Linked DNA regions of Homo sapiens: region 2 is linked to region 1. A link means that fine-mapping ties the variant in region 1 to the expression of a gene that starts in the linked region. Tissue or cell type: lung. Region 1 holds a variant in brackets; the other region holds the start of a gene. All regions are shown on one strand. Distances are between the middles of the regions.

Evidence for each region. PIP is the estimated chance that this variant, and not a neighbour inherited with it, causes the effect. A credible set is the group of variants that fine-mapping cannot tell apart.
Region 2: it holds the start of FGF14, and the variant in region 1 is the best candidate, but not a certain one, in a credible set for the expression of FGF14 in lung (TOPMed, PIP 0.53).

Annotation. Positions count from the first base shown.
Region 1 is chr13:102,311,333-102,321,672 of GRCh38, forward strand. The region is part of intron 3 of FGF14-IT1 (FGF14 intronic transcript 1); the gene reads right to left. It overlaps LOC107984615 (a long non-coding RNA gene), which reads left to right. Exons shown (of 5, transcript XR_007063856.1): 5 at 1,411-1,483. It also overlaps a transcript of FGF14 not described here. Among named protein-coding and RNA genes, the nearest start is that of FGF14-AS1, 51 kb to the right of the region's middle. The variant G/C (reference allele first, on the strand shown) is at 6,336.
Region 2 is chr13:101,911,806-101,922,145 of GRCh38, forward strand. FGF14 (fibroblast growth factor 14) reads right to left here and starts at 5,140. Exons shown (of 5, transcript NM_004115.4): 1 at 4,648-5,140. The coding sequence starts at 4,840. RefSeq lists an enhancer at 6,471-6,972.

The DNA of each region.
Region 1 (10,340 bases):
TCTGATCAGTCTTGAAGAAAATATCTTTTCTATGTGAGCTCTTTAAAGTAAAACTAAGTTTTGTCAATGATTCTCCCCAAGAAATAATGGTGTCTTTAATTCTAGCTACAATGCCCCTGCTGGCAAGAGTCCATCCTTCCCCACAGCTGAATCGGGCCGATTTAAAAGTCACCTCATGCATTTGGGACAGGTTGGAGGTGTGGAAAAACACTCCCATTACAATTCAGAAGTGCTGTCATACTACCAGAACCAAAAATAAAGCTGTAGAAAAGGAGAGAGGAGGAGAAAGTAAGCAGAAGAGATTAAGGGTCAGGCAAAGCAAAGGGCTTAAAAAGACAGCGTGTAACACAGGATATTTGAAACGAACAAAGAACTGAGCTATTTTAAAGCACAACTACAAACACTTCTCGAATATCTGTGATCATAGATGAGAGCTGAACAAGTTATCCCCCATCCCTTTATGGTTCTTAGAAATACAGAAGGCATAACACAACATTTGCCAGAAGAATAAATAAGACAACTTACCGATGTGCTAAAAAGTCTCTTTCAAATATTGAGGTAAGCCAAAGGGAAATGAGTATCTCAATGTTACTAGGGTCTCATATTTTCCAACATTTGTTCAATTTGGCCCACACATTTTAATGTTTCATATTTATGGGTTAATAACATTTTAATTTGGGAACCAAGTGACCTGAGTTTTAGTTTAGCTGGGCCGCTAAGAACTGCTTGACGTTTGGTATGTTACCTACTCTGAGTTTCAGTTCCCTATCTGCTAAAGTATTCCATTCTCTTTAAGGTTGTCTACGATTTATGAAACCATTATTGTCCTCTCTTTTGTACTCTCTGACTTTCCATTTTATTACATAATGAACAAGTACAAGACCTAAACCAAAAAAAAAAAAAAAAAGGCAAACTCTGCTTGCTCATTTAAATGAAAGCAGAAAAAAAAAACTTAAGTGGGAGAGAGCTTATATTAGCAACCTACTTCTGGACAATACCAATTTTCAAAAATACTATTTTCAAGGAGGTTTCATTTACAGCGTTGTCTTTCATTCTTACAACAAACTTTGGAAGCTAATATTTATTACTGTTTACCAAGGAGAAATTCAGATCCAAGATCACCAAACTAATGCCAATTAAAAGAATAAATAGGACTGATACTTGGGCCAAGGGTTTAAAATGTCTGTATGTTTTATAAAAAATCAAATCCACTAGAAATTGTATTCCCCACAAACACTTATGAATGGCATTATACCACTGCACTATTAATCCTAGTGCTGTTAGGAATTCCAACTACCCCCCTGGATGGCTTAAAGGGATAGAGACATCAGTGATAGCCCTAGGAAAAATATAAGAATTAGAACTTATAGGAGAAGGAAGTGTATTGTTTTGTTTTGTTTTGTTTTTCAGGGCATGGATTTGAAAGCTTCTGATAGCAGAAATTTCTTGCTGATTGTTTTCTGCTATCAACAACATCCTCAGAGACATATGAAGAATAAAGAAACATTTAGCTCTTCCATCGAAGCCCTACTTCTGGACTCCGTCCACAGCCCCAGATATCCCTTTCAGTCCAGAGCTCGGCAGGTACATCACTCAGGGGCTGTGTGAAAAGTCAAGTGGGGTAGAGAGGAGACACAACCCTGACAAAAGCAAGTGAGTTCTCCTCCTCCTGTAGCGGACCAACCTACTCCTTCCTGAGCCACAGCCATAGGAGCAGACATTTAGTTCAAGGACAACAGAGCACCTTCCAAGCACTGATAGCCTTACAGTTCTCCAGGGAAAAAGGCAGGGCCAAGCAAGGCCCCTCTGCAAGGTTCACATTCAGCTATCCAACAATCAATTCAACAGTGTCTTCCACCTCACTGTGGGCAGGGCACTGCTCCTGGAAGGCACCAGGCAATGTCAAACCCAATCCTGAGCCTGGAAGCACTCACACACAGGGAAAGCAGCCGTGGAAATAGCTCAATTACAATTATGTGCCTAGTCTCTTCATCAATTACAACAGAAGTGGAGAACTCAGAAACTGAGTCTCACGAGGTAACATTTAAAGTCAATCTTGAAAGATAAGCAGGAGTTGTTTGTTGGAGCCAGGGAAGGGCACTCTCGTCTCAGGGAAAGGCATAAAAGAATGCAGATCATCACTGATGAAACAGTCCCGATTTTACAGGAAATGGTGAGAAAGTGAAAGTCAAAATTGTAGTTGGTGGTCCAAACAAGATACTCTTTGGGAATTCTCTCAGAAATACTCCATTTACCTTTTAAGGCGTTGGGCAGGGGAGGGGGGTAAGAGCTCAAAACAGTTCACATTGTTGGTTTTAATAGATTTTTAAACTAATAACATAATGAAATTAAAATGTCTATTTTCAGCCCCAACCCCAAAAGAAATATATTCTTGTTTGCATTAAAGAAGGTTTTCACCAAAACTGTTCAGGTTCATTTCTATGGAAAATCATTCAGGCATCAACCCTCATGACTTCTTCAACAGTCCAAATGGAAAGCAACAACATCACGTCACAAATTCCTCCACAAAGTAGTACTAGACGTTCAAGACAGAGAAATTAAAATACCAATTATTTTCTCTAAAACTACCAAACGTGTTTTCCATCACTCAGGCAGAAAATGCAGCCATTACGAAACAACTCTGCCAGGCTGAGGCCGGAGAACACAGCCAGCACACAGACGACCAAGATGTTCAGTCCACTTAAGAAAATGCACCTCACTACTTCAGGGGCCACGCAAGCCATCTTCATGAGGCATTACGTATTGAAAAAAAATGGCTAATTTTCTGAGAGGTCAGTTGAAATATAAGAGACAGAAATTTCTTTCTGCTGCTTGTACAGTCAAAATTTATTGAAGTCAGTTAGCAACAATGTAATTTGCCTGACCTGATCATCTTACAAATTGAAGTCATCAATAAAGTGTATTCACTTGTGTATCATCATGTTTTATTCAGCTGGAACTGTCTCTCTCCACCGATGGCCCCAAACATATATTACATGCACAAATTAAGCAGCACCCATTCTATATTGACTACTTACTAGTTCCTTCTGAATATGTCCTCAATCGCGCTATACATATTTCCTGAACTGAAGGGACCATTCCAAGTGTCTTCACGGTATATGTTACTTCAACAAACCGAACATATTAATACTATATGGAATGTCTGCATTTTCCAGATACTGTACTAGATACAAGGATCCAATGATTAATAAAAAAGCTTTCCTGCCCTCAGAGAGCTGAAAGTATAGTTTTATTATCACAGAAACTCACAATTATTCATAGTAAACACTCAGAAAATATTTGGTGAATAAACAGGTAGACGTACATGCAAATAAACAAATGCCAATCACTCTTTCAAAGTTGTTTACAACAAGAGTTACTGTTTTTATTCTGAAAGTTAATTTCTGCTATCAGGAAAAAAAGTCGTCTTGTGTATTAATTCAGGAATTTCCTGCAAAGCTCTGAAAGCAAGTACTTGCTCACACCTGCCAGAAGGGTTTGGTATTTCTCGACATGGGAGTAAATATAATGTTTTATTGATCTCACTTCTATTAGCTTTGGCTAAAAATTTATATATAAAAATACATAATAAATGTACAAAATTATACATATTATATTAATATATTATATAACATATACATTATTATAAATAACATATTAATGTATAATAAAAGATTCACATAATGTTACACACACATACAAACATGTATACATATATGCATATATACATAGGATATACAAACATATATGTACAAACATGTATATATGTTTGTGGTAATGTGGTAATATATATGTATATTGTGTGAATATTATATCACACACACACACATGCCTTCCCTAATAAATCGGTCAAAGAAATGAGTAGCAAGGAAAAAATATTATAAAATCTGGCATTCCTCCTTTCTGTAAAGGGGATCTTTTTGAAAAGAAACACATATTGCTCTAAGAGTCAGTCACACTTTCACAGACAGAAGATACTGCTTCCAAAGTGCCTCCCAGCCTGCACCCCTTCAGGGGACAGTAGAGCAGTTCCCTGAAGCCCTACCTCAAGTTCAAAAACTATCACTTCTCTCAACCCTCCCCTGTAGGCAATGCCTGTAACATTTCACTGCATTTTTTGCGGGCCTCTTTTACTTGACTAAGTTCTCTGAGAGCCAGCATTATGAACCATTTGTGTTTAAATGCCTTGTATTTGGCACAGTTTGGGTCATAACCCAATACTGCAAAAAGGGAACTCAATGGCATGGGTTAGTTTATTAAATTAATTTTAAAATCATTTTCCTTTTAGCTGTCTTGTAATCCTTCTTGAAATAGTTGAGGATCCCCTAGCATTTCACAAAACAAGAGTTGGAATTTTCTGTCCCAAATATTATTGCATCTAAAATATATCAGCTTGGGTCCTGTGTACCTTAGGGAGAACCCCAAGCTTGAAATAAACTAGGTAAGACCTCAAATACAGCAAGGCAGTGAGCCTAACACAGATTTATTGAAGCTTTAATTCCCTCTTCTTACCTTTCTAGCAAATTACTCCTTTTTACAATATCCCAAGATATTTTAAAAAAAACCTGTTGTATATTACATTACACTCTTTCATGAATATACCAGCACTGCAAAAAAGCAGAAACTAGGACATGACTACTTGGGTGCATAATGAGCCCTATGCAATCCCACAGCTACACTGTGCAGAGAAGAATAAAGCATTTGGCCAGTGCTGTCTCATTAGGGGAAAATATGTCCTGCCAGGAGGCAAGGGTCTAAACTAGGAGCCCCCTTGGAGTCCCATATTAAACCCAGCAGACTGCAAAATAACAGAAATTAACAGAAGGATAAGCTTTGTGACTGGAGAAAAATTTAACTTTCTCAAATCCTAAAATCCTGACCTTTCTGCCACAGTACTCAACCAAGTTTTCATGGCATACTATCATGTTACATACAATCAGTTGTGGGACATGTCAAAAGCAATGTTACCAACAATAGTCTCTCAACATGCACATCAAGGGTTGAACATTCAACAAAAATGTGGTAAGTTGATGGGGTGACAGATATGTTAATTCGCTCGCCTGAATATTTCTACATAGACCAAAATATCACACTGTACCCCATACATATATACAATTATTATCAATTAAAAATAAATGAATAATTTTTAAAAGGGAGGATATCTTGCACATAGAAATCCCACACATCATGCAAGTTGACTATGAAACTAAACATGTTAAAACATTGAGAACCACTTAGGACAACTTAAACAAAATACATTTACAAATTGCCTTGAATCACTCTCTTGAACTATCTCTGTATATGTGTGTGTGTATATATATATGCATATAAAATATTACAAATATTGGCGTGTAGTTTTTCAGCCATGGTATTATTGTAGGCTTTAACCTTTTTGTTCAGATGTCCTGAAACAGACCACTTTAAAAATCAGAATTTTTGAAAATATTAACTCCTTTTTGCACGGTTAATCATACAACCTCTGAAACACCTGAGAAATTATAGTAAAAATAATGTAATCCATTCTCAGGGTTATCATCATGATTACTGATATTAAATGCTGGCATCTTTCAGGATGATTGAGATGTGGAAAGAGTAGCTCTGACATGCAGTAAATTCACCTCATGATACTCATGATACTTCTTTTGATTGTATGGCTTTTTTAGGCCATTTTCCATCTTTTTTTGGGCCATTTTCCATTCATTAATTCATTTCATTCCATCACGTACCTTCTCAGACATGTGATATAGACAGGCACCGATGTCAGTATGCCTGCCTCTAGCACAGATGCATTTCTCCTACACTAACTACTTGCTACATTTATTCTGCAAGAAGCCATTAATTTACACTATACAGTCACTAGCTTTGTGAGAAAATAAGAGTATAAAGGTTCTGAGTAAGATTCTTAAGACCTTTTCTAGAAGTAAATAATTTGAACCATACATAAACATTTGCAAGATCGATTCAGTAATTTATATTCTTTCGTTATTCCTTTATTCCCACCTGCATTCTGTATAGTGGTAATAAGTATTAGAAAAAAAAAGATCCCCAAAAACAAGAGGAATTAAATATATATATAGATATTATGAACCAACTGATATGTTCCTTCCTCATTTACACACATTGAAGGAGTTAAGAATGTTTCATCCTTTCTCCTGGTTTTCTGCTTCTGTCTCTGTTATAAATTATATCACTTAAATATAAATGAATGAATTTTTACTCTATAGCTTTGAGACATTCTGGTTTTTAAACCTTTGTTTTTTTTCTAAACACTTTCCAAAATATAGGACCAAATTTTTAACATACTTGAGAGGCTTGAGTAAGCTGAGAACCAAGGA[G/C]AGCAGCAGATCCCTCAGTCCTGGACAGGACCCGCCCCTCCCTTCACTACTGGGGAGGAAACATCCCACCCCTTCTGGCTTCTACCAAATGTGACAACTTGCCTGCTTGGCCTTCTGTTAAGAGCTGGATTTCCTGTCCCCCTCCCACACACTGGGCAGCAGCCAGACTGCAAAAGTCCAGTTTGACCATGTGGAAACCTTTGCTTGGTTCCTGCCAGAGCCTTTCAGTAAGCTGCCCTATTTAGAGTCCAGCTCAGATAAATCCTCCCCTTCCACAATCTGGCCTACTACAACAATTGCAAGACCATAGACATCGGCCCCAGTCATGCTTGATTTTTAATTTTTGTTTGCTTAGACTAGGGTTTATTCATCATGTTACCATCATGTCTGAAAAAACTGATAATGGTATCTGGCATTTTCAGTAAATGGAGGGAGTTGGAGGCCCCAGCCACCTGGGTCTTTCCCAAGTATCTTGAAAGCTGAGAGGATCAACACCTCAGCACACCTGCAGACATTTAGGGCCAAGCAGTGGGAAGATCTAAACCCCTGGAAGGAGCCAGAATTCAGTTTGAAATCTACTCACATAGGGAGTGCCCTGGGTGCCATAGGAGCTGCTGGCAGCAGGGGGTCCCAACTGCGTATCCTCAGCCTTAGAGCACCCACCCTACCCAAACTGGGCACTCAGATGTATTTGTGTCCTAGGCTGCTGTAACAAGGCACCATCAGCTGCGTGGCCTAAACAACAGACATGTATTGTCTCACAGCTCTGGAGGCTGGAAGTCTGAGATCAAGGTATTGGCAGAGTGGACTCTTTCTGAGAACTGGGAGGGAGACTCTGGTCCACGCCTTTTCCAAGCTGCTAGTGGTTTTTCTGCCTGTCTTCAGCTTTCCTTGGCTTGTAGAAGTATCACCCTGATCTGTGTCTTCTTCTTCGACTGGCATTCTCCGAGTCCCTATCTGTGTATAAATTTCCCCTTTGTGTAAGGACACAGTCATATTCAACGAAGGGTCTGCCCTACTCTAGCATGACCTTATCATGACTAATTACATCTGCAACAACAGAATTTCCAAGTAAGGTCATATTCTGAGGTTCTGGGGATTAGGACTTCAGCACATAAATTTGAGGGGGGCACGTTTCAACCCATAACTCCAGGAATGACATTGATGGCTACCTGTAGATCATCTGAGACAGGGTTTGGCACACAGTAGGTTGGTACTCAATACACATGTGAGTTAAATAAACGAATGCATGAGTGAATCATCCTTTCTGAGTGCCAGTGAAGAAGTCTTTAACTTGGGGTGTCGTGATTTTCATGATCACCATTGAGCATTGAAGACTATTGAGGAGAGAAGCCGTTGCTGCGAGCTTTCTGAGGCTGCTTGCTGAAAGACGAAGGCACTCCTTGCTGTCTGATCACAGCAGAAGGCTCTGAATTTGAAGTTGGAGTGCTATAAATAGCAGTTAGTCTTATCCTTCAAAATGTCATGTGTACTTTTTAAAAAGATTTTAGTGTCATATGAGAGTCCCTGAGTAATTCAATTTATAGGAAAGGGAGATCAGAAAGAACTAACCATATTATAATTAATTACATATGCAAATGATGGACTACATCTAGATGCATGAATCCATGTCTAATCATAGTTGGCAAAGGTTGGCAACTGCACACCTGGACTGGGGAACACACCCCCTGCTCTGCTTAGATACAGACGCCATCAACAACCTCTGAAAATTTCCCAGAAAACCTGGAAATTCAGTCCTGTAAGTGCCAAGCCTCCTGCCTTCCCCCATCCCTCTCTGGGGCTTGCCCCCACCAGCACACAGCAGTGCAGACACCATACAGCATGGCTGCGCTATGGTGAGGCATGGCCAGTGGGAGGAAGGCCACCAATTGCATACAATAACAACTTTGTTGTCACTGCTAGGAGCCGAACCAGCTGCGATGCCTTACAATTGCTACTTAAATGTAAGCAGTGTCAGGAAAGTCTGAATGTAAAGAAGTTTCTCAGTTCTTGAGCCAAATGACCGGTTGCTTGTGTTCTTCTATTAACTCTAAAACAATTAACTCTATCAGCTTATGCTGATAGCCACTGTGCATTTTTTGGAGCACCTGGGCACTAGCTAAGGATAGTGACTGATATGTGGATGATGAAATATATAATAGAGATGATATAGACATAGATGTGCCAAATGCTATATATACATGTATGTATGTATATATTCATATATATGCACATGCATACTGATGAAAGCCACTTTGCTGATATCCCCAAATAACCACTGAACTACAGATTCCAGATTTATAGAGCATATTGTTGGTGTTGTTTCTGAGAGTACCTACCATAGTATTCCTGTGGAAAGATACACACCTATATAGTTTCCATTTTCAAAATGCATGCATGTGCCTCTGTGTGCGTGTGTGTGCTCCCAAAGCAGCAGTTGTAGGGGACTGCACAGAATAATCGTTCGGGAGATAATCAGGAGTCCTAGATTTGAGTCCCAGTCTTGCCACTGATCAAAAATGGAAAGAATGAGTTCTATCACCCAAAGTATGAGCATGCAATTAAAGAGATTATGTGAAAGAACCTTGAAAACTCCAAAAAAAAAAAAAAATGACCCTCATGAGACTTCACAAGTCAACAAAGGTAAAAATCAATGGCAAAAGTTTCAGGCAACCTTGTGTTCATCCAGGTGGAGACATGCTTAATCTCTCCTGACCCTGCAAACACTTCTGGGCACCTCCCTGGCATGCATTCAGTTGGTGCTGCACTGGAGTTGCCATATGACTGCATCCTGAGTCTCTGCTGTGGGACTGGAGTTATCCTAGGGAAAATGGTGACTAAACCAATTTCCTCTTCAGTGTTCTTTTTCATTCCCATTTCCTCCTGTTTTGGAGACTTATTTTGTCATACAGTCTTAAAGGAAAGGGATCTGGTTTGCTGGTTCACAATTAGAGGTAGGAGGCAAGGTAGCTCCTCCCCTAGGAGTTTGTGCTCTTTGAAAGCCAATGTGGGAGGACCTCCCTAGAAGCACATGGAGATATAGCTGAGCAGCATCTATCTACTCACCTACATATTCCCTTGAATGGGGCTAAAGATGTGCATGTTATGCCAAAAGCTGAAAAAATAGCAACATGAGATAGGAGAATGGATAGTGAATGTTCATTGTGAACTCTTTAAGGAGCAATACCTCATTTCCTATTTCCTTCATCCCTCCCATTCACCTTTCACACTGAATTCTTAGCCAACTCTACATAAAATAGACTCCCAATAGGACCAGTATGGCTATACTCAAAATAGCCTCTCTCTAATATGGGCTCAATTTATAACCTGGGTAGCTGGTACAGTTCATACGTAGAAAAGTTTTGGCCATTCAAAAATATTGGAATGTCTGATTCCTGCTTGATATTCTGTAGAAGTAAGGGCACCAATTTGCAAGTCAGGAGGCCAGACCACAGTGTCTCCTTAACTGCCAAATGTCTATATATCCTTGGACAGACCCCTTCATTGCAATAGAGCACATTTTTTCTCAATAAAATGACTGAATTGAAAGCTATAGCTCTAAAAAGCTTTCAATTCAGTGCTGGAAATTCAAGTTATATGGACTGTTTTAATTTCCATGGTAGTCGATAAATAATATGGTATGGCATTTTGGTTAACTTGAAATTACCATGTAACTCCATATATGGAGTTACTATATAATTTGCAATTCTCAAAGAATCATAATGCAAAAAATAAGTATTTAACAATGCAACATATAGAATACAATTTTTAAATGAATTTGAAACATAATGCTTCCCAGGGTCATTATAAACACAAATTTTCATTTATCCATATATTTTAAATTGCTAATTATTGGAAATTTTTGATAAATTCTTGTTAGTGGCTTTTCCATACTCTATTGTTTAAAGTACGTTTGTGTGCATGTGAGATTATTACAAGCAAAGGTAACTGAATAGGGACCTACTGCCAAAATCTGCTTACATTTCACTAATTTTGATTAGGCCT
Region 2 (10,340 bases), 400 kb before region 1:
TAATATGTAGTAAGACTCCAATGGGTATGGCCTTAGAAAACCAACACCAAAGAGAAAATATCTTCCAAAAAATAAAAAGTGCTTTGAAGAAAAATGTTCCCTTGTTTTAGTTTAGCCAAAACAGCCAAAACAAACAAGCATGTGGTCTTTGTATGAGCACATGGTAATGACACTAAAACAGTAGCGCACAAAAACAGTGTTTTTTTTTTTTTTTGATGACTATTTGCTGTGGATTATTTTCTGAGACGGTAGACACTTGTTTCCTTACATAGCACCTTGTAAGAAGGAAGGACACTTTTCTTAGAATAACTGATGGATTTCACTATCACACTGGAGCAAAGCAGTTTATTTCTATAGGTGTACATGCATTTCTGCTTTTTATATTATGCATTAACTTGAAAACACATTTTAAGTACCTCACTTTCCATTCCTTATACATACTGTAATTTATTTTAGTTAAAATGTTAGTAAGAAGCCCAGGCACCTGCTGATTAAGCATACATGGCACATAATACCATAGCTCTCATGATCACAGCCCCAAAAAAGTAAATCTCAAGAAACAACTGCATTAGCAGCCATGCCAAAGATTTAGAAAGGTTATTATCCTGTGAACAATTATGGTTCTTGTTTGATTGAAAAATTCATAATAAAAACATAACACTTTTGGGGATACAATGTTCATTATACACCATTGTAGTCAGTGGCTACTTTAGTTTTCATTTTTGTTAAGATTCCAAATAATAAAACTATTTGCAAACTGTTGATTTCCTTGTAAATTCCCCTTTCTTTGGCTAAATCAATATATGTAAATATCTTTGTTCATATATTAGTTAAGCTTTAAAATGAGGTTGTTTATGTTCTTGCATTCTTATAAATAACCCACAAATATGTAATCCCTCTAATTCTCTTAAAAAAAGATATAATTATATTTATTTAGGGAAAGTAAAAAAGGTATAAAATTTGAAAAGTATTTTTATGTCTAAAATTATCTAGTTAGATCACTCTGGTTCAAGGATACTTTCTTTTTTAGCTTGGGCCTATTAACCTTCCTTATTTCACTCCAATCCAAGGGCAATGAGGAGAACCCAGTGTATGGCAAACACTCTCAAGATTTGAGAGCCTATGAAGATGCAGAAAACACAGACTTTGCTTCTTCCCTACAATCAGCTGAATATGTATACTTAATTAATTATTATCAGGTATATATAAACAACAACAGTGACGTATGAAATACCACAGGAGAATTATTTTTAATTGTATCCAATAAATGAAGGCTTCTCAGAGGAGATGGCATTTTCTCTCAGCTTTTCAAAATGAGAATAATTTCATAATTTCAACAGGTGAATGTAGAAGTGAGGAGAAGATGCTAGACACACAGTAAAGCACAAACAAAAGGATAAGGATTTGAAAGCATATGACTAATTTGCGGGGTGTGTGGCATTGTATTGTGTTTGAAATCTGTGGAGGTCGGTGGAGGGTAGATGGAGCTGAATCTGGAAAGGTGGGTTGCAGTCATGCTGCCTACCACACCATTAATAGCCATCTTGCAAATTTCTGTCCTTCACAAGAGTAAGTCAACTGGTATAAACATCACTCTTCTATAGGGGTAGGGGTGATGGAGATAGGAAAGAGTGTGGGTGTAGGGCTCCAACTCAATAATCTTTACATTAAATAAATTACTACTTAATAAAGGATTTTTTAAAACCCTACATTTCAAAAATGTGTATTACCCTTCCCCAAAACACAAAATGTGGAGCTATTCTTTATTCTGTTTTCAAGCATATCACACTATATTCTACTTGACAATGTGCTTAAAATTTCTATGCCTCTTTTTTTTCTCCCAATGGGACAATATTTTTTCCACCTCAAGGTCTCTGCACACACATTGCTTTTTCTACCTGCTCTTAAAATCTCTGCATCCTTCTTACCTGTCATCTCTCAACCTGTGGATCCCAGTGTTGCCCACCCTGACTACTTTATCTAATTAGATCCCTCTCCCCACCCCTCTCTCCTCCATAATTCTTTATCCCAGCTCTCTTCATGCTTTATAGGACTTTGAATTTTATTATTTCTTATTAATTTGTTCCTTTCCATAGGCAATGACTCTCTACCCCATGTTTGTGAGCTCCATGATGGCAGGAACTTCAACTCTTCTATTCACTGCTGTATGTATATATAATACCTGCTACAGAGCCTAACAGATTGTAAAGATTCAATAATTGTTATATTATTTTCAGCTATAAAGACATATAAAACCATCAGACTTAAAGGTTGTATCTTTAATAAATATGATTTTTTAAAATTTTCTGAGGGCAATTCCCTATGTAAAGAGTGTGTAATAAGAAGGTAAATATGCTTGAAAATATGTTCGACAATAAGACTTAATTAAATGAATAATTATATTGTTATATATAATAATATAAAAGCATACTATTATATGTCGATATATAATTTACATAACATAAAGTCTTAATATTTGTTTTGCTTAAAATTAGTGATACTAATAAATTAATCCTTTTCTGATACTCAAGAGATATATCTGTATTTTTCTCCTCTGAAGAATATATATACTTTTATATAAGAAATATAAGAAGAATAAAAAATTCTCATACAATTTCCTTATAACGTATCTTCCCTTCTATTTTCCTGTCCAAAGTAAGGTAGAAAAGTGACCTCAAATATATTTTTCTTACAGAACATTGAAGATTGCTTATCATTTCAAAATCAGGAATACCAACAGAGCAGTCAGGGTTGAAAATGGAGAAACGGACCATTAGAAAACTCAGACAGCTTTCTATACTGACAAAAAAGTAAACACCCAACTTAAAATTCATTAAGTGTAAAGCAAATCCTCCTTCGCCACCCAATATGGCACAAAACATTTATTGTTCATATTTATAAAATAATCTACTGGCTATATTCTTAAGAAATACACACAAGTTTTAATCATTGTTTATATTAAAATAAGCTTATTTAGTAGATAGTATGTTAATTTACTTTATGTAGACAGCCAATTTGGAGCTGTATGTGGTGAAAACTGTATTCTAAAAGATAGTCTGTTTGATGACATAAGAGGATAAGCACAATTTAAGTCATAATAGATTGATCCTCCGTCTATCAACGGTGATTAAGGCAGTCGAGTTGGTCTCATTACACAAAGGTGGGCTGAATAAGGCTCTAGGCTAATGTGGAAAATTAAAATCCATTTTTTTCTTAATGGCTCCTACACTGGTCTGAAAATATGATTGATCCCAAATTCTCCAACAAGAAGTTCTTATTTTACTTATATAATTTTATTTCTCTAACAGAACTTCCACTCTGATTTTCTTCCTATCTTTGCCTTTGAAGCTTGATAGTAAGAGCAAGTAATCTCCAATTTCTTAAATGTGACAACAAGAAATTGTCCTTTTAAAATATTCAGCATTAGCCTTTAAAAAAAAAGCATCAAAACTTTTGGTCATCAATTTGCAAATGTAAGGACACGCACTCACTCTTTGAGAAACACATGTATAGCTTATGCTTCTATCCCCCGTCTTTGGAACAACAGGGCATTTAAAACAAATACAGCTGGGAGCCGACAATGTAATGTGCTGGGCAAACATATACTCCCATTAACGTAAATAGATTCTTCAATGTTTCCTACCAACCCCACTTGGTTATGAAAAGCCAGCAATGCCCATTTCCCCCACAGAACACACCACATGCTCGCAAAACAACCAGCCTTAGCAACTGGATGCAGAGACAGGCAGAGAGAGAGACAAAAGCGCCTGGCTCCTGAATAGGATGCCTTCTCAGACCCTGGCATTTCAAAGGCAGTGAAAGGTCATCCTAGGTACTAGTTTCTCAAAGAAATACCTGTAGTAAGGTAACTATTCTAGTCACCTTTATATAGTAACGGCTTGTATCTCAGGCAATTCGCCAGTTTTTCAATTAAAACTGACACATATTAGGGATTTTTACTTCTGCCCCCCGCTCCCCGCAATTCGGATTCTTTCTTTAGACTCCCTGAGCCTCTGTCCCCATCCCAGGATTTGACTGAAGGGCTGCAGAGCCCAGGGCTGCGCGCTAAGCAGCCTTCTGCTGAACCTCAGCGGACTGGGCCATAGTTCACACACCCTCCACTCCTTCTACAGCAGCTCCCGCTGGGGGCACCGCCAGGATATCCACATTTGTCCAAGGTCTGGGAACCCGGGAGGTTTCTAGGAGACCCCAGAGACCAAGTGAGGCCAGGCCCACCCCATGGAAACCCCCACCAGCTCAGATCAGACTGCGAGCGGTGGCTCGACCCCGGGTGTGGCAGGAAGGGGTGCCCCGCGTTCCAGAGCCAGTGCCAGTCCCTATCCTCCCGGGAAGCCGAGACTCAGGGGGAACAGGTTTCCCAGAGCCCAGCCTGCAGGGACGCGGAGGGCAGGAGCCGCCGGCGAGGAGCAGCCAACTTGCCATCTCTGGCGGCTGCACTTCTCGGCGGCTACAGGTTGCCCGACAGCGGACTCCAGGGTCCCCGCGACGGCACCCAGAGTGCTCAGAAGGGAGGCCGGGGCCGGGGTGGGCCGGGAAAACCGAGGGAGGGAAGGAGCCTGGAGAAGCTCCGTTTAGGCGGGGAGGGGGCGACCCGGGGCGCATCTCCCGACCATGACCCCCACAGACCTTGGCGCCGCAACCTGCGCTTCTTGAGGCCGAAGATGCGCACTTTGGAGAAGATATCCACCAGGTTGCCGTTGCAGAGCCCGCGGTTCTTGCTGGGGCTGCTCCGCCTCCTGCTGGCAGACGGCCGGTCCCAGTGCTGCTCCCGCGCCTGCCGCTTCTGGCGGATCAAGCCGCTAGCGATGGCCGCGGCCATGGTGGCCCCGGGAACGGGTCCGGGGAGGGAGGGCGCGGGAGGACGGCGAGCCGGGGGCACCGGAGGGGAAGGCGGCGGCGCAGACCGTGGCTCGCCCTCGGGGCAGAGGAGGGGGTGCCAGGCGGGACTGGGGAGAGGGGAAGGGGGGCTCAGTCCTGACCGGGACCCATCGCCCTCTCCGCGGGGCGCGGGGCCAGGCGCGCAGATGCGCCCAGGGCGCAGCCGGACGATCCCGGGAAGCCGGACGTCGTGGCCGCCGCCGCTTGGCCACGTCCGAGTGGAGAGCGGGACCGCGGCTGCGGGCGCTGCTGGTCACCGCTCGTCGCAGGAACCCCGGCGGGGGTCGCCACCGCCACTCGCGCTGCCTTCTCGCCCTGCCCGGCTCCCGGGCGGGAGGTAGAGCCGGCCGGCGGCTCCCCGGGCGCCGGCTGGAGGGCGGGTCCCGGCAGGGTCTCTGCGCGTCCGTCGGTCCGGGTCGCGCTGGGCAGGACTCAGCGCCGGGCTCCAGCTGCCCGCGGGCCGGTGCCGCCGCCGGCGCCGCCCGCTCTCGGCTTCTGCCGGTGATTGTCAAGTGCTTTGGAAATCAGCATCTGGAGAGACCAATCTTCTCCCCTGAGATCTCTAATCAAACGCTCCGTTCCCACCCCACTACACCCCCTCCACCTATGTGGTCCCCCTCCTGATGTACCTCTTCAGAAAGAAACAAAACGTATAGGTAATAATGATTTAAAAATAATAAGAAAGAAAGCTAAGATGGATTGCAGGGATGGGGTGCTAAGAGGCCGAGCCAAAGCAGGTGGAATTGAAGGAACATCGGGGCGCTTTTTCTTAGATGCAACTCGCTGGTTCCCGAGCCTTCCGCGGCTTGGTTGGGGCTTCTCGGTCTTAACGTGGTTACCGGTGCACTGAAACTCTCAGCAGCGGTTGGAGGGCGAGGTGGTTTCCGCCCTCCCTGCTAATCCCTCCAGCACCAACGCCCCCCCGTCGCCACCCCCAACCCCGGGTTGGAGGGAGGAGCCTCCACTCCTCACCTAGTCCACCCAAACTTGCAGGACCCTCCCTTCTGCTGCAGGAAGGGTAGGTTTGTCATTTTGAAAGGCTACACGGAGCAAAAAGGAGGGAATGGAAAGAGAGAAGGTGTGATTAAGCGAGATAGAAAGACCCCACTCCCAAATATGCTCCCCAGCCCTGGGAGGAGGAGATGACAGCCGCAGTAGCTGCTACAGAACAGCAGCTGGGTAGGATAAACGCCCAGGAGAATGTTGAAGAAGTCAGGGCAGAAATATAAGGGGCAGAGGAGGGTGTCACACTATTCCAGGGACAGTGAAAAGCAGCCAGACAGGACACTCCAATTTGAGCTGTCATCTTCTGGTGTCCCTGGGCAAAGAAGCTCTGTCAGGGAGCAAAGCCATCTGAACTGTGTCTGAAATTCAAATACAACAGCCGGCGTCTCCTCCCCCTTGATTTTCTGTCTGTGTCCCGACAGCGGTTCCCTCCTGGATACCTGAAAATGTGAAGGTCCAAGAGAAAGGGCGGCAGTGGAGGGCACCCGAAAAAAACAAAAAGCCGGGGGGAGGTTGGGAGAGAAACACTTCATGCTTGGATGAACACAGTTCCGTGGTTTCTAGGATACACCAGAGTGGCAGAACCAAGTGCAGCTCTGGCTCCGGGCTTCTTACTTTTCTCCTCTTCCCTTTACACTGCTTTGCCTATCAGCTCAGGCAGCTAAAGAGAAAGAAATGCTCGAACTAGACTTCTGGAAATTCAGTGTGAAGCAAGGGGGAGAGATGGCTCACTTGGTAATCAAGAGACTTGCAACAACCTTCTTCTCCAGTGACTGCTTTAGAGCTGGAAAGAGGGCAAGCACACTACGCAGGCAGCCCTGGGAGCAGTTCTCAACCAAAACACACTTTCTCTTTGTCTCAGGAATAGGCAGTAGAGTACTCGCCACCAGGCAACTGGGGGGAAGTGCAGCAGATTACAGGGAGGCTGGGCACCTTCTGCTCTAAGCAACTTATCCACAGCTTCTCCATGGAAGCAGCCACTGCTGGGCTGTTGTTTGTTACCTTCACTCCACATTTACCAACAAGTCTCCTTTTGGGAAGGAAATGCAACCTGATGAGAGTGTGTAGATTTAGATCTAAGGCAGGGATCATTGGCTTTACGACGGTGTTTGTCATATATTACAAAGTGTACTTCTGGAAGTTTATTTTCTACACTTTGCTATGTTACATCTACAAATTCTACAATTATTAAAAGGAATATGCTAGAGTTGTTTTGCTAGAAACTTGCAATCCCTAGTCACTCATAAAATAGCAAAAGTGAGAAAAAGGGGAATGCTAATTATTTTGCTCTGCCTTTCCCTCTCTATTTTCAGTTTCATATGTCTCTTTTCTTCCATTTTTTTGTGAGTGTGCATTTATGTTGTGTTGCTGTAGTCCTGCTTAAAAAGGGAAAGATGTCTATAGAGAGATGAAAATAACTAAATGGCTATTGAGTGTGTCTGTTGTTTTAATTCACTGAAATGAGTCCTACTGAACATTAAGAGTCACTACTCTTGGTTTCTATTATTGAAGAAACGCCATTTGTACATTTCAGAAGTTCTAGATTTGAATTTGCAAATGACTGTAAGATTAAAGCATCCAGGTTTATTATCAAAGGCTTCTTGCAGTGAGTGTTTCAAAAAAGTAAAATGTTAAGTATAGTGACCTCTTAAATCTAGTATGACTTCCCCAACACACCTAGTTTATTTTTAAAGGTTCTTTAAGCCTTTTGATGTATGTGCCAACAATATTAATTTGAAAAGAGTGACATTAAGCTTCTTGTTCTTATAGCCGTGCCTCTATTTTTGCAGGCATTTTCTTATGCTGCAGTCTTTCCCCCAAATCCTTGGACTTGGGGGTCAGGAGGTCAGTTTTTGGCCCTCTCAGAGCCCTCCCTTCGTTGTTCAGCAGCCTCGGACCAGCCTGACATTCAGCACCGCGGACAGGGATCCCGCCCCAGCCCTACCTCTCCCAGCAGAAGCAAGTTCGCTGATGGAGAAAAGCGCTGGCTGTGAGGGTCTCTGACACTTTCCTCCCCTAAAAGCAGTTTCTCACTTTTTTCCCTCATGATGGGAAGGAAATTGATCTTCACAGCTTCTACCGACGTTAATAACACCTTGGAACACAAAGCCTTTCAGCTTTTCCATAACCGAGAGATACTCTTTCTTTCTCGAGCGTCCCGACCCCTGGCGCAGCGCCTGAACAGCGGACTCCGGAGTCTCCGGGCATCTATTCTGGCTGTGAATTTCAGGAGCCTCAAGCGGTCATTTCTCTTCAACGTAGCTTCCTATTTTAAGGGATCTTGGAGAGGGGGGCAGCATTGGGATAATCAAGGTCTTTTAGGTTAATCCCTGCGTTTTCATTTTACCTCCCCAAAACGCTGTTTAGTTGTTTACGGATGGAGGTAAGTGAAAGAAAACGCAAGAGAGCCATCTGCTGTCTTAAGCTGTGATAAAAGAATGTGCAAAGCTAGGGTGAAAACCAATTCAGGGCCGGTGAACACAAATGTAAAGGTTACTGTAGTTCAGAAAATAATTTGTCACTCATCAGAACCTCCTTGGAGTTGTTAATTTTACCTTTGACGTTATAAAGAGGAAAATAAAGTACGGCCCAGGTGGTGTAGCTCCTCACCAAGCTATTGGGAGCCTGAACTCTCATTTCAGAGGTTCTTGGTTCATTTCTTGACTCTGCAACTTCCTAGCTGTATAATGACCTCCAAGGTGTTGCTTTAGTCTCTCTCAGCCTCAATTTCTTCATCTCTCAAATTGAGGTGAAAACAGAGCCTCCTTTTCAACTGCTGTGAGATTAAATTTAGTAAATAAATGTAAAGATCCTAGTACCACATCTGGTGCACCCTAATTGAAAATGACAGCTATGACTGTATTATCATCATCTTCCAGTTTACTCATTTCTATCTTGTAAATTCTTTTGCAGTTTCCATGTTTTTTCAATATCAAAATATATGTATTCCCTATGTATATTTCCTCACCACCACCCCCCCACAGTGGATGCATGACAAGATTTTAGATAATTCGAAACATAAGAAGTTATTTTAAATTTTGACGAAATAAGTCCCAAGTTCAAACCTTAGTTATTATTAACTACATTTGTGAACTGAGTCCCGTAAGCCTACTTTCACACCAACTGATTGATAATAAAAACATTTCTCTACCTTTCAGAGACTATGATGAGGGTCTATGAGAAAGTACTTCTAAAAACACTAAAATACTATACAAGCATCAGTTTGGAAGGTAATTAGTACACTGTGCTTGATGGTCTCCTGAAGATGCTATGATCCTTTTGGTCCTCCAACTTTAAGTATGTTGTTCCCTCTACCTGGAAAATTTCTATTGCCCTATCCTCACACTCCTCTTGATGATTAAAAAAAAAAAATCATCAGCTAAAGAGTAAGGCATGAGCCACCATGGCTTGCCAACAGATTTTTAAATAAAAATAAAGAGACTTTTTGGCTCTGTCTTGATGGAGCTTATAGTTTAGGTCTCAGCATAGATATCTTCTCTGGGAAACTTCTTGCCACCTACCCCTAATTAACACTGAATCTAGGGCACCTTCTAAAAACTTCATCATTCCTCTACTAACACCAGCAATTGTTGAATAAAGAGAGAGCTATATTGAAACTTCTACAAAGATGTCTGATAGGTAAGTGTCTCATGCTTAAAATGGCCATGAACGAACTACTGTTCTTCCTTCTTAAACCTGTTCTTCCAATCCTCGCCACTTCTGAAATGGCAACTTCATTCTTGTTCCTCAGGCTGAAAACTTTAGTATCATATTAATGTCATTTCTTTCTCTAATACCCCGTATATATTTGTGTAAGATCTATTCTGTCTATCTGCAAAATATATCCAAGATATCACTCTCACCACCTCCACTACTACCTACCACCATCATCTTTTGGGTGATTATACTACAATAGTAACTACGAAATCCCATACTTCAAAACCAAAGTCCTCACTGTAGTGGCCTGCCATGGCTCATGTGATTTGTGCCCCATCTCTGCCTTCAGTTGTTCTCTGACATCATCTCTATTCATCTCCCTTCACTTACCACTTGCTGTCCATCAAACCACCTGGCATGATCCTATGACAGGACTTTTATACTTGCTGTTGCATTTGACTCTCATCTCCTATGAATCTTTCCTCACATCTTTGCTCATAAATCTATTTAAAATTACAACTCATAAACACAGACATTTCCTTCTTGCTACCCTGCTTTATGGTTCTACATAGCACGTACAACTTTTAAAATTTCCATGTACTTTCCTTATTTATTTGGGCTGTCTTCCCCGTTTAAAATATAAGCCTATAAAGGTACAGACTTTGTCTCCTTTGTTTACTGCCACATATCCAGTGTTTAAAATGGTGCCAGGCAAGTAGGTGCTCAATAAAGATTTGTGTATTGAAAGGATTAAGACATTGGATATCTGAACAAATAGA